Linked DNA regions of Homo sapiens: region 2 is linked to region 1. The links come from fine-mapping of genetic effects on gene expression. Tissue or cell type: whole blood. Region 1 holds a variant in brackets; the other region holds the start of a gene. All regions are shown on one strand. Distances are between the middles of the regions.

What was found. PIP is the estimated chance that this variant, and not a neighbour inherited with it, causes the effect.
Region 2: WFS1 starts here. The variant in region 1 is fine-mapped to the expression of WFS1 in whole blood (INTERVAL, PIP above 0.99).

What each region holds. Positions count from the first base shown.
Region 1 is chr4:6,306,507-6,311,846 of GRCh38, reverse strand. No RefSeq gene overlaps it. Among named protein-coding and RNA genes, the nearest start is that of WFS1, 39 kb to the right of the region's middle. The variant A/G (reference allele first, on the strand shown) is at 2,534.
Region 2 is chr4:6,267,040-6,272,039 of GRCh38, reverse strand. It overlaps WFS1 (wolframin ER transmembrane glycoprotein), which reads right to left and starts at 2,190. Exons shown (of 8, transcript NM_006005.3): 1 at 2,026-2,190. RefSeq lists a silencer at 2,103-2,212.

The DNA.
Region 1 (5,340 bases):
GCTTTAAAAACCATGAGCATTTAATTTAATTTAAAGAGAAAGGAAGCAAAGATGTTGCCGGAAAGGGGTCCCAATCCAGACCCCAAGAGAGGGCTCTTGGATCTCGTGGAAGAAAGAATTCAGGGCAAGTCCATGGAGAAAAGTGAAAGCAAGTTTATTAGGAAAGTAAAGGAATACAAGAATGGCTACTCCATGGACAGAGCAGCCCGAGGGCTGCTGGTTGCCCATTTTTATGGTTATTTCTGATGATATGCTAAACAAGGGGCGGATTATTCATGCCTCCCCTTTCTAGACCATATAGGGTAACTTCCTGACATTGCCATGGCATTTGTAAACTGTCATGGCGGTGGTGGGAGTGTGGCAGCAAAGACGACCAGAGGTCACTCTCATGGCCATCTTGGTTTTGGTGGATTTTGGCCGGCTTCTTTACTGCAAACTGTTTTATCAGCAAGGTCTGTATGGCTTGTATTTTGTGTCAACCTCCTATCTCACCCTGTAACTTAGATGCCTTAACTGTCTGGGAATGCAGCCCAGTAGGTTTCAGCCTCATTTTACCCATCTCCTATTCAAGATGGAGTTGCTCTGGTTCACACGCCTCGACAGCCCTGCCATATGACTCCTGATGGGTGGGGTGGAGAGTGTGAGAAGGGTTCAGGGACTGGCAGAACCTGAGCTGGGCTGGCAGGAGATGGAGATGCCTCCAAACCAAGGGGTTCCTGGGTGGAACATGCTCTGCTCTGTCTCCACTCTGGAGCAGGGTTTGCTGATGACAGTCCCTGCACTTCCTCAGGCCCCCGCTTACCTATCTGCCCATTGGAAGGGAGCGTGTCTTGACCATGCCCAGCACAGGAGCCTTGAGAACTGGAGAATGAATGGATGATGGACTAAATCCATAAATTCATGAATGATTGAATAAATGATTGAAGGAATGAATGGCTCCATGAATGAATGATTGTGTAAATGATGGTGTGATAGATACTTCATTTCTCAACAAATCATAGCCACCCTGAAAAGCAGATCTTTATAATCCTGATCTCACAGAGGAGCCAACTGAGGCTGGAAAAGTTAGGAGGTGTGCCCAAGGCCCATCCTATAGGATAGTGACAAGTGTGACCACTGATTGACACCTACTGTGTGCTGGGCCTTGTGTCGCACACTTTGCACTCTATCGTATTCTACATAAACCCATGAGGCAGGTCCTATTATTGCTCCTGTTCTAGAGGTAAGGAACTTGAGCTTCAGAGGTTAGGGAACCTGCCCAGGGCCACACAGTAAAGGCAGAGGCCAGGCTGGAACGCAGGTCTCTCAAACCTATGCGGTCATAGGTTCTGGAGCTGGGGTCTGGCCCCATTCTGTCCTGACCCCAGTGCCTCTGTTCTTCCTCCACTGATACCTCAAAGCAAAGGGTGGTGAACTCCACCCAGCCTGCAGAATCTAGGGAAAGTTGTAAGGTTTCTATTGGTAACTATATTAGGGTTCTCCGGAGTGACAGAAGTTATAGGATCTATGTGTCTATGAAAGGGGGTTTATCAGGGAGAATTGACTCACATGATCACAAAGCAAAGTTTCCTGATAGGCTGTCTGCAAGCTAGGGAAGAAGGAAGCCAGTAGTGGCTCAGCCCGAGTCCAAAAGCCTCAAAAGTAGGGAAGCCAAGAGTGCAGCCTTCAATCTGTGGCAGAAAGCACAGATTTCGGCAAACCACTGGTGTAAGTCCCAGAGTCCAAAGGCCGAAGAACCTGTAGTCTGATGTCCAAGGGCAGGAGGAGTGGAAGGAAGCATCCAGCATGTGAGGAAGATGAAGGTGGAAGACTCAGCAAGCCAGCTTCTCCCACCTTCTTCTGCCTGCTTAGTTGGAGGCGCGCTGGCAGCGGATTGGATGGTGCCCACCCACATGGAGGAGAGGTCTTCCTCTCCCAGTCCACTGACTCAAATTTCAGTCTCCTCTGGCAACACCCCCACAGACACACCCAGAAACAATGCTTCACTAGCTTTCTAGGCATCTCTCAATCCAATCAAGTTGACACCTAACGGTAACCATCACAGTACCTATCGGGATTCATTCTTTATATGCTACAAAAAGTTCCTGCGTAATAACTTCTGCTAGTTTTTGCTGAAAGAAATCCAAACAGCCTCGAAAAGGGGACAGCCTCCTTGACTTAAACTAAACACAAAGCCCTCCCTGGTTTGGAAATACCTGGAGAAACTTGCCCCTTGGGTCTGAGCAGCCGTAGAGCAAGCAAGGGCAGTGATGGTGAGAGGTGACAGCGTACTGGCAGCCCCGCTCGCTCTCGGCGCCCCCTCTGGCCGCGCTTCAGGGGCCCTTCAGCCCGCCGCTGCACCGTGGGAGCCCCCTCTCTGGGCTGGCCGAGGCCGGAGCCGGATCCCTCTGGGCTGGCCGAGGCCGGAGCCGGATCCCTCGGCTTGTGGGGAGGTGTGCAGGGAGAGGCGCGGGCGGGAACGGGGCTGCGCGCTGCGCTTGCGGGCCAGCGAGAGTTCCGGGTGGGCGGGGGCTCAGCTGGCCTCGCTCTCGGA[A/G]AAGCCGGTCGGCGCCGCCCGCCACGGGCGGTGAGGGGCTTAGCACCCGGGCCAGCAGCTGTGGAGGGTTCGCCGGGTCCCCCAGCAGTGCCAGCACTGCGCTCGAATTCTCGCCGGGCGTCAGCTGCCTCCCCGTAGGGCAGGGCTGGGGACCTGCAGCCCACCATGCCCGAGCCTCCCCCTGGCCGTGGGCTCCTGCGCGGCCCAGCCTCCCCGACAAGCGCCGCCCCCTGCTCCGCGGCACGCCGGGTCCCATCGACCGCCCAAGGGCTGAGGAGTGAGGGCGCAGGGCGCGGGACTGGCGGGCAGCTCCACCTGCAGCCCGGTTGGGGGATCCACTAGGTGAAGCCAGCTGGGCTCCTGAGTCTAGTGGGGATTTGGAGAACCTTTGTGTCTAGCTAAGGGACTGTAAATACACCAATCAGCACTCTGTGTCTGGCTCAAGGTTTGTAAAGGCACCAATCAGTGCTCTGTGTCTAGCTAATCTAGTGGGGACTTGGAGAACTTTTGTGTCTAGCTCAGGGATTGTAAACGCACCAATCAGCACCCTGCAAAACGGACCAATCAGCTCTCTGTAAAACAGACCAATCAGCTCTCTGCAAAATGGACCAATCAGCAAGATGTGGGTGGGGCCAGATAAGGGAATAAAAGCAGGCTGCTGGAGCCAGTAATGTTGACACCCTCGGGTTGTCTTCTGTGGTGTGGAGGCTTTGTTCTTTTGTTCTTTGTGATAGATCTAATTGCTGCTCACTCTTTGGGTCTGTACTGCGTTTATGAGCTGTGACACTCGCCGTGAAGGTCTGCAGCTTCACTCCTGAACCAGCGAGAGGAGGAACCCACCAGAAGGAGGAAAACGCGGAACACATCTGAATATCAGAAGGAACAAACTCCAGACACGCCGCCTTTAAGAACTGTAACAGTCACCGCGAGGGTCCGTGGTTTCATTCTTGAAGTAAGTGAGACCAAGAACCTGCCAATTTCAGACACAATGGAGAGCGCCAGTCCTGCTGCGGGGCCATACATCTATTTAATTTCCTCTCATCTTCCCCCCGGTTCCGAGAGGAAGGTGCTTTCACCTGCACTGTTCCCATGAGGAAACGAGGCTTCAGGAATCTGATAAAGCTTCCAAACTCCCGTGGCTGGCAGGAACCAAGGTTTCGATGGCCGGACTTCTCAGCCCCCCAGGTGGAAAAGCAGGAGGCATGACAGATGAGGGTGAGAGTGCATGCCAGGTCAGGCTGAGAAGGCGACAATGCCATATGGTTTTTTCCACTTAGCTTAGCTCCAGGATGACTTTGAACAGTGTTACAGCCCCATGGGCAGAAAATTGCACTTGCCTCAAGCTTCATTAAAGCAAATCGAGTCAGAAGGGATTGAAACACCTGGAAGAAATGCAATGGATTCAAACAGGGAAAAGGTGTGGGTCCGTCCCTTTTCCTGGTAAATCCAGCAGCCTAGGAGATGTCAGAAAAACATTCCAAGGTTCCTGGACTTTTAAAGAGGCTAAGGATGGGGCCTGCCAGGTACAGGATGGCCCATGCAGGTGGAGATGCAGCCACAGGATACCTGGGATTCATTGCAGCCTCGTCACTTACCAGTGTTGGCACTGTATCGGTTATCCCGAATTTAACAGCCTAAAGCCACATTCGTCATCTTATACTCTGTGGGGGTAGGGAATCCAGGAGTGGATTCACCAGGAGGTTCTGGCTGGGTGTCTCCCCGGAGCCGCAGGCGAGTGTGGGCCGTGGCAGCCATCCCTGTTTCCAAGTGCACCATGTGGCAGTTGGCTTGAGGCTCCAGGTCCTTGAGGTGCAGGCTTCCCCACGGGGCTGCTCGCGGCATGGCTTCCTCACCCAGAGTGATGGATCCGAGAGAGAGCAGCCAAACTGAAAGCCACAGCCTTTTGTAAGCAAACCTCAGAAGTGACATCTCGTCACATCTGCCATATTCTACTGGTCGCACAGACCTATCCTGCTACATGGAAGGAGCAGCAGGAAGGTGGTGGGGATTGCTGGGACCATCTTGGAGGCTGCCACAGACATCCAAGGTGAGTTACCGCCCTGCTCCGTGCCCAGGTACCCCTGGATAAAGTGGGGACAATAACATCACCCTCACGAGGTTTTCAAAAGCATGTCCACAAAGCAGCCACCAGTGTCAGGCAGGCGGTAGGTGTTCTGCAGGGAGTAGTCGGCTGCCCCACCCAGCTCTGGGCCCAGCTCCCTCTGATGGGGCTGGTGTCCTTGGGGCTCTTCCAGCTCCAGCAGAAATGGGGAGCGGGATACCGGGTCACCTCACTGCCTGGCTTGCTGGGCCAGGCTCTCGGCTCTCAGCCCCAGTTATACACTCATCTCAGCCGGGGCTTCCCAAAACGCAGCACCCGAGTTCTTCCCATCTTTGGGGGTGGGATTCAGCACAGGACCCCACTGTCCTAAAGAGACAGGTTATTCTGTGACTAAAATAGGAAGGAAAGGGCCTTTCTGGCTAACGGCAGAAAAAAACACATCTAGTTAGAGGAAAGCTTGAAACAGTGAGTTTAGCTGATTTGATCACTTCTGGACGGAAAGAAAAGGGAACCCGAGTCTTTTCTGTTTTGTTTGCTTTGTTTTGTTCCCCAAGCTACTTTCCAAAGTCACTGTAGAAGTTCAGCACTTTAGGAACAACTTTAACAATGGTTTGCCAGCCTCCAAGGTGTGGTTTCCTAGCAACTGGGAAGCTTTTAGAGCTCCAAATAATTGATCAAGTTATGAGTGACTCAAGCAACAGCGAAGTCCTTTTTAGAAAAACAACAAAGCACCTTTATCTTTACC
Region 2 (5,000 bases), 40 kb after region 1:
AGGCAAGCTGGGAGGTGGCTGGGCATTCCAGCAGGGGTTGTGCCCAGAAGAGGAGGCAGCAGAGGGACAGTGAGCCAGGCTTGTGGCCAGGAACACGCAGGTGGCTGGGAGGTGACTGCTGGAGAGAGGACACAGGAGGGAGAGGCTGAGTGAGCAGCGAGGCGGGTCCCTGAGGGCCCGAAAGAATGCCGGCTCCTGGCTCGGGAGGCGGACCTGACCCGATAGCCCAGAGGGAAGTGGCAGCTGAAGAACCAGCAGGGCTGCGTGCAGCCAGGCCCGGATCGGGACCAGGGAGGAGCCTGGGGGTCGTCCAGGGAGAGGCGAGGGTCCTGAACCAGGGCAGGCATCCGAGTGAGGCTCAGGAGCCAGGAGAGACCCAACTGGGAGTGAGGAATGAAGGGCACAGGGGGTGGTCTGGTTTGTGGCTGGGGCTGGCTGGCTGTGGTGGTACCACTTCCGGAAGTAGGGAAGTGGGAGGGGAGGGGAGCCGTGTAGGCATAAAGCTCCCGACCTATTATGATTCTTATTGCCACCGTCAAGGATGGGTGTTTCGGGTCTGTCTGGCAGTGCAGACATCTCTGGGGGTTGAGACTGAGCTGAGGTCCCCTCTGTGACCAGCCCCAGAAGCCTGTCCAGCACTGGTCCGGGATGGGCAGGGGAGGCCTAAGTCAGAGACGCCCTCCATGCTCTTCCATCCTGGGAAAGAAGGTGAGATGGGGTCTCCCAGCCAACTTTTCCTGTGTCTGCGAAGGGAGGACAAACCAGCAGGTAGGGAAAAGAGGCTGAAATGTGGAGAAGCCTCCCTCCAAATCCCTGGTTGGATACAACGGAGACCCCATGGGAATCACAGACCCTTGGACACAGAAGTAAACAGGTGGCGACAGTGACAAAGGTGGCCTCTGGGCTTCCCGTGGGCTCCCTCTCCTGCTGCAGAGAACAGGCAGCCAGCACATGGGGTACCCAGGGCACAGCTCCTTGAGTGATGGATGCTGGCATAAGAGAAAGCCCTTTACAAACTGCAAAGCCCTGGGCCAAATGCCAGGGGTCACTGTCCAAGGTGAGGAGAGACGGGGCTGCTTCTGGAGAGATAGGGCAGAGGCCTCACACCAGGCTCTGCCCCATCAGCTTCGTGGTCCTGGGCTGGCACCAAACCCTGCTGAGCCTCAGCTTCCTGGGGTGTCAAACGGGGACTATAACTTCTCCGCCTAAGGCTACTGAGAGGGTTAAATCTGGGTGGTGGGGGGTTGCACAAATGCGACTTCCTTGGAATTCATAACATCATCTGCTAAGTGGGTGAGAGGCCAGGGCGCCATCACATCCAAAAGGGCTGGGTAGGATTCTCCAGAAAGTTTTCGTTGATCAAACAAAAAGCTAATGATCCAGAGGGTGGAGTTCATACGAGGCAGGGTCCAGGTGCTGCCACTGAAACCCCTCAACTCTCTACTGAGGGGCCCCGAGAGAGAGAGGAACTGCCACAGCGCTCCTAAGTGGGCTGTGGGGATTCAGAATGACCCCTAAGCTGCCCCTCGGGCGGGCCGGGTCCCCCTGGGGGACTGAACCCCCCTTCCCCCCCACAACACCTCCCGGGGGCCCAGGCGCGTTCCAACGGCCGGGCGGGCACCGAGGGCGGCCGTGGGTCCCGGGACCGCGGGGGAGGGGCATGACGGGGCAACTCGGGGGGGATGGCGCGGGGCGCGGGGAGGGGGCCTGCCCGCCGGCCGCTCCGCCTCTCGGGCCTGCTGTCCCGCCCGCGGCGGGGCTCCAGGCGACAGCGCGCGGGGGACCGGGGCGCGCCCCCCGGGTGACCCGTTCGGGCCCGGAACAGGGGTCGCCTTGCGCGTTGCAGAGCGGGCGGGACCCCCGGCCCTCCAACTTCGGGGACCTTGTCGGGACTTTGGGGCCAGCCACCCATCAGCTCGGAAGGGGAAACTGAGGCCCGAAGAGGACAGTGCCTCAGGGCTCTTGCCCGCCTCCTGCGCGCTGCCCACAGCCACCGCGCCACTGCCCCAGCGCCGAAGTACTCACCGGCCCGTGAGTGGGCCGCACGCGGCGCTGCGACGCCCTGGGGCCTCTGGGCCGGCAGAAAAGTTGTTCGGGAGCAGCTGAACGCGGCGCAAACGGGAGATCTGCGGCCGCGGGGGAGCAATCTGCACTCGCTGCTGAAGAGCCGGCTAGCGCGGCCTTCTGCACGAGGGGGCGGGGCAGGGGCGGGGCCTTCGGCCTCCCTCCACTCCAGACGCGGCCCCCCGGATGCGGCGCCAGCTCGGCCTGCTGAGTGGCCGGTGTAGCCGCCAATCACTCCACATCTCCGCCAATCACGGTGCGCCTCGCCTAGCTGCGGCCCGGCACTCCCCCTGCGTGGTTGGGCCCGAGGGGCCAGAAGGCGGGTCCGGCTCGCCCACAGCGAAAGTTTCCGAGCGGACTCGGGCCCCGGCCCCGCCCCCGCCCCGCCCGCGGAACGTCCAGTTGCTTAGCGAGGCCGCTCGCCTTCTCCTGTAACAGGTGGTTTGGACCCGTGGAAAAGGCTCCGGCCACCTTTCATCCACCACTCCGGCCTCAGCGTCCCCAACTGCAGATTCATTATATTTGCTGTTGCAATATTAACACACGTCTTGAGCGCCTATTCCGGCGCTGCAAGAGAGTCTAAGGGCTCCCCTAATAACAGCAGCAGAGATGGAAAAATGGGGCCTGTTTGAAACGAGTGTCTGCAGCCAAGTACTGCTTTCAGTGCCCAGAATCAAATGCAGTGTAGCAAGCTTTTCACACGGTGACTGTGGGATTCCTTTAAAGTGTGTGTTAGCCCAGGGAGTGGGCAAGGCTCAGGCAGTTTGGAGACTCTGGGAGTTTGGTTCCTGTCTGGGAGGCGTGGTTTGGAGATGAGGGCGAGGGTCTATCCTTGAGAGGCCCTGGGGAACGTGAGACCCTGCCTGCTCTGTCTCTGGTCCCCACAACCAACCTGAGCTACCTGTCCTAGTTATCACAGCAGAAACTGGGGCTCGGAGTGACTGTCAGAGATAATGCTTACCAACATGTTGGGAGCAAATATTCCAGATGGCTTTGGAGATGAGTTCTGAACACACTACTTCGGAGGACTTTTGTCAAAGCGGCGTAGTTCATGTCAGTCACCTCATTTGATTCTCCAGCTGCCCCCACTGCCCACCCCCGATCCCCAATGTTCACGTGTGACCCTGTGAGGCTCACAGAGGAAGGAAGAACACCTGCCGTCAGCCTCGCCTGCTCTGTCCAGGTTGGCTTAGGGGCTTTCACAGCTTTCAAGGGCCCCCCTAGTGACCCAAGGAGGGAGGTGGCACTGAGCCCATTTTTTATTGATGTGAAAATTGAGGCTCAGACATAGTTATTTGCCCAAAGTCTTGAAGATGTCTTTCCACCTTATCACACACTAACTGTAGAAAATTTGGAGAATTACTAAAAGTAGAAAGGAGAAAAAAAATCACTCAAAGATGATCACTGTTCACATTGTGAGATTTATGCACATTTAAGAAAATAATAAATATTAATGTGAACACACAATCACAGAGAGGCTGAAGCACTTCCCAAACCCTTTGCAGGGGCTCATTAAGCAGAGAGAAGAGGACAGATTGAAAAGTTCCTCCTGTGGAGGTCTAAGGGAAGAGAGGAAGTGCAACAAAAAATCTACAAGATGGCTTAAGGAGCCTCTATCAGAACACAGCAACACTGAACATACTCCACGGAGCTAAGAGACTGAAAAAGCAACAGGCAAATTCAGAAAGAGAAGAGTGGAGGTGAGGACAAATGAGCAAACTGGAAGATAATGTGGAGTAAATGCTTCATGATGTAGAGGAAAAGCACATGAAAATCATCAGGACAAAAAGCAGAGACTGGAAAGACAGTTCCAGGAGGTGTATTGCACAAAGGACAGGTACTCCAGGAAGAGCTGGAGGGGAAACAGAGGTGAGCAAAGTGCCAGGAGAACGTGTCCCTGGAAATCCCAGATGCCAAGGATAAAGAGACGGTCTTGCAGAGTTCCAGAAAGAACAGGTCACATCTAAGGGGAGAAAAGTTGAAGTGGTTCCTAGGGGACTTTGGAGCAATGTCCAGGGACTCTGATGATAGGATCAAGGATCCTTACCATGGCTACTACAGGATTCATCTATGTGGACAAAAGAGAGAAAATATCCACTGTGGCAAGACAGAGAAAGGACCTCAGTGATGTCCCCTTTCAGAGGAAGATATTCAGAGTTCCCCCGTCACCGAGACAGTTCAATCACAGTAGAGATTTCAAGATAGAGCAAACGCTCAGAACAGGAAGTGGTGTTAAGCAATGACCCTTGCAAAATATACAGTATGGATAATCCACATGTGCCTGTGATTTTGTACTAGCAGTGCCACATAAGGATTCTTAAAACATAAGCTACATGCTTCAAGAGAAAGTTGTATTAGCCTGGAACTAAAAAAAAAAATAGAATCTTATCACAGAGAAGTCAGAATATTTTAAGATCACATTTGGTTGAGGGGAGAAGGAGGAAGTAAAAGGATCTGATTTGGTGAGTGGGGAAGGAAAGCCTTATTGGTGGTTGGGAGGGGTGCTTCATTACCATTTACTTTTAATACATTAGCAGGGAAAGATTGGTTTAATTATGACTCTCAGCTGGGGAAGGAAAGCCTTATTGGTGGTGGGGAGGGGGCTTCATTACCATTTACTTTTAATACATTATCAGGGAAAGATTGGTTGAATTATGACTCTCAGGAATTGGAAAGTAGCAACTCACGGGAAAGAAGCAGAGTAGAACTCCTGAATTACTAGGTAGAAGTTGGGGGAGGGGTGGAGGGAGAGTAAGGAAGCAAAATTAAGGGGGAAAGTAAATAATAGCAAGAACAATAAGCTTAATAATAGTAAACATAAGATGAGATAAAATAAATAAAGCCATGGCTACCCGCCTTCGTAACACGGTGAATGGGCTGAATTTCCCATCCAAAGTCTGTAAGATTGGGGCAAAAACTAAAGTCCAGTTAAGCGC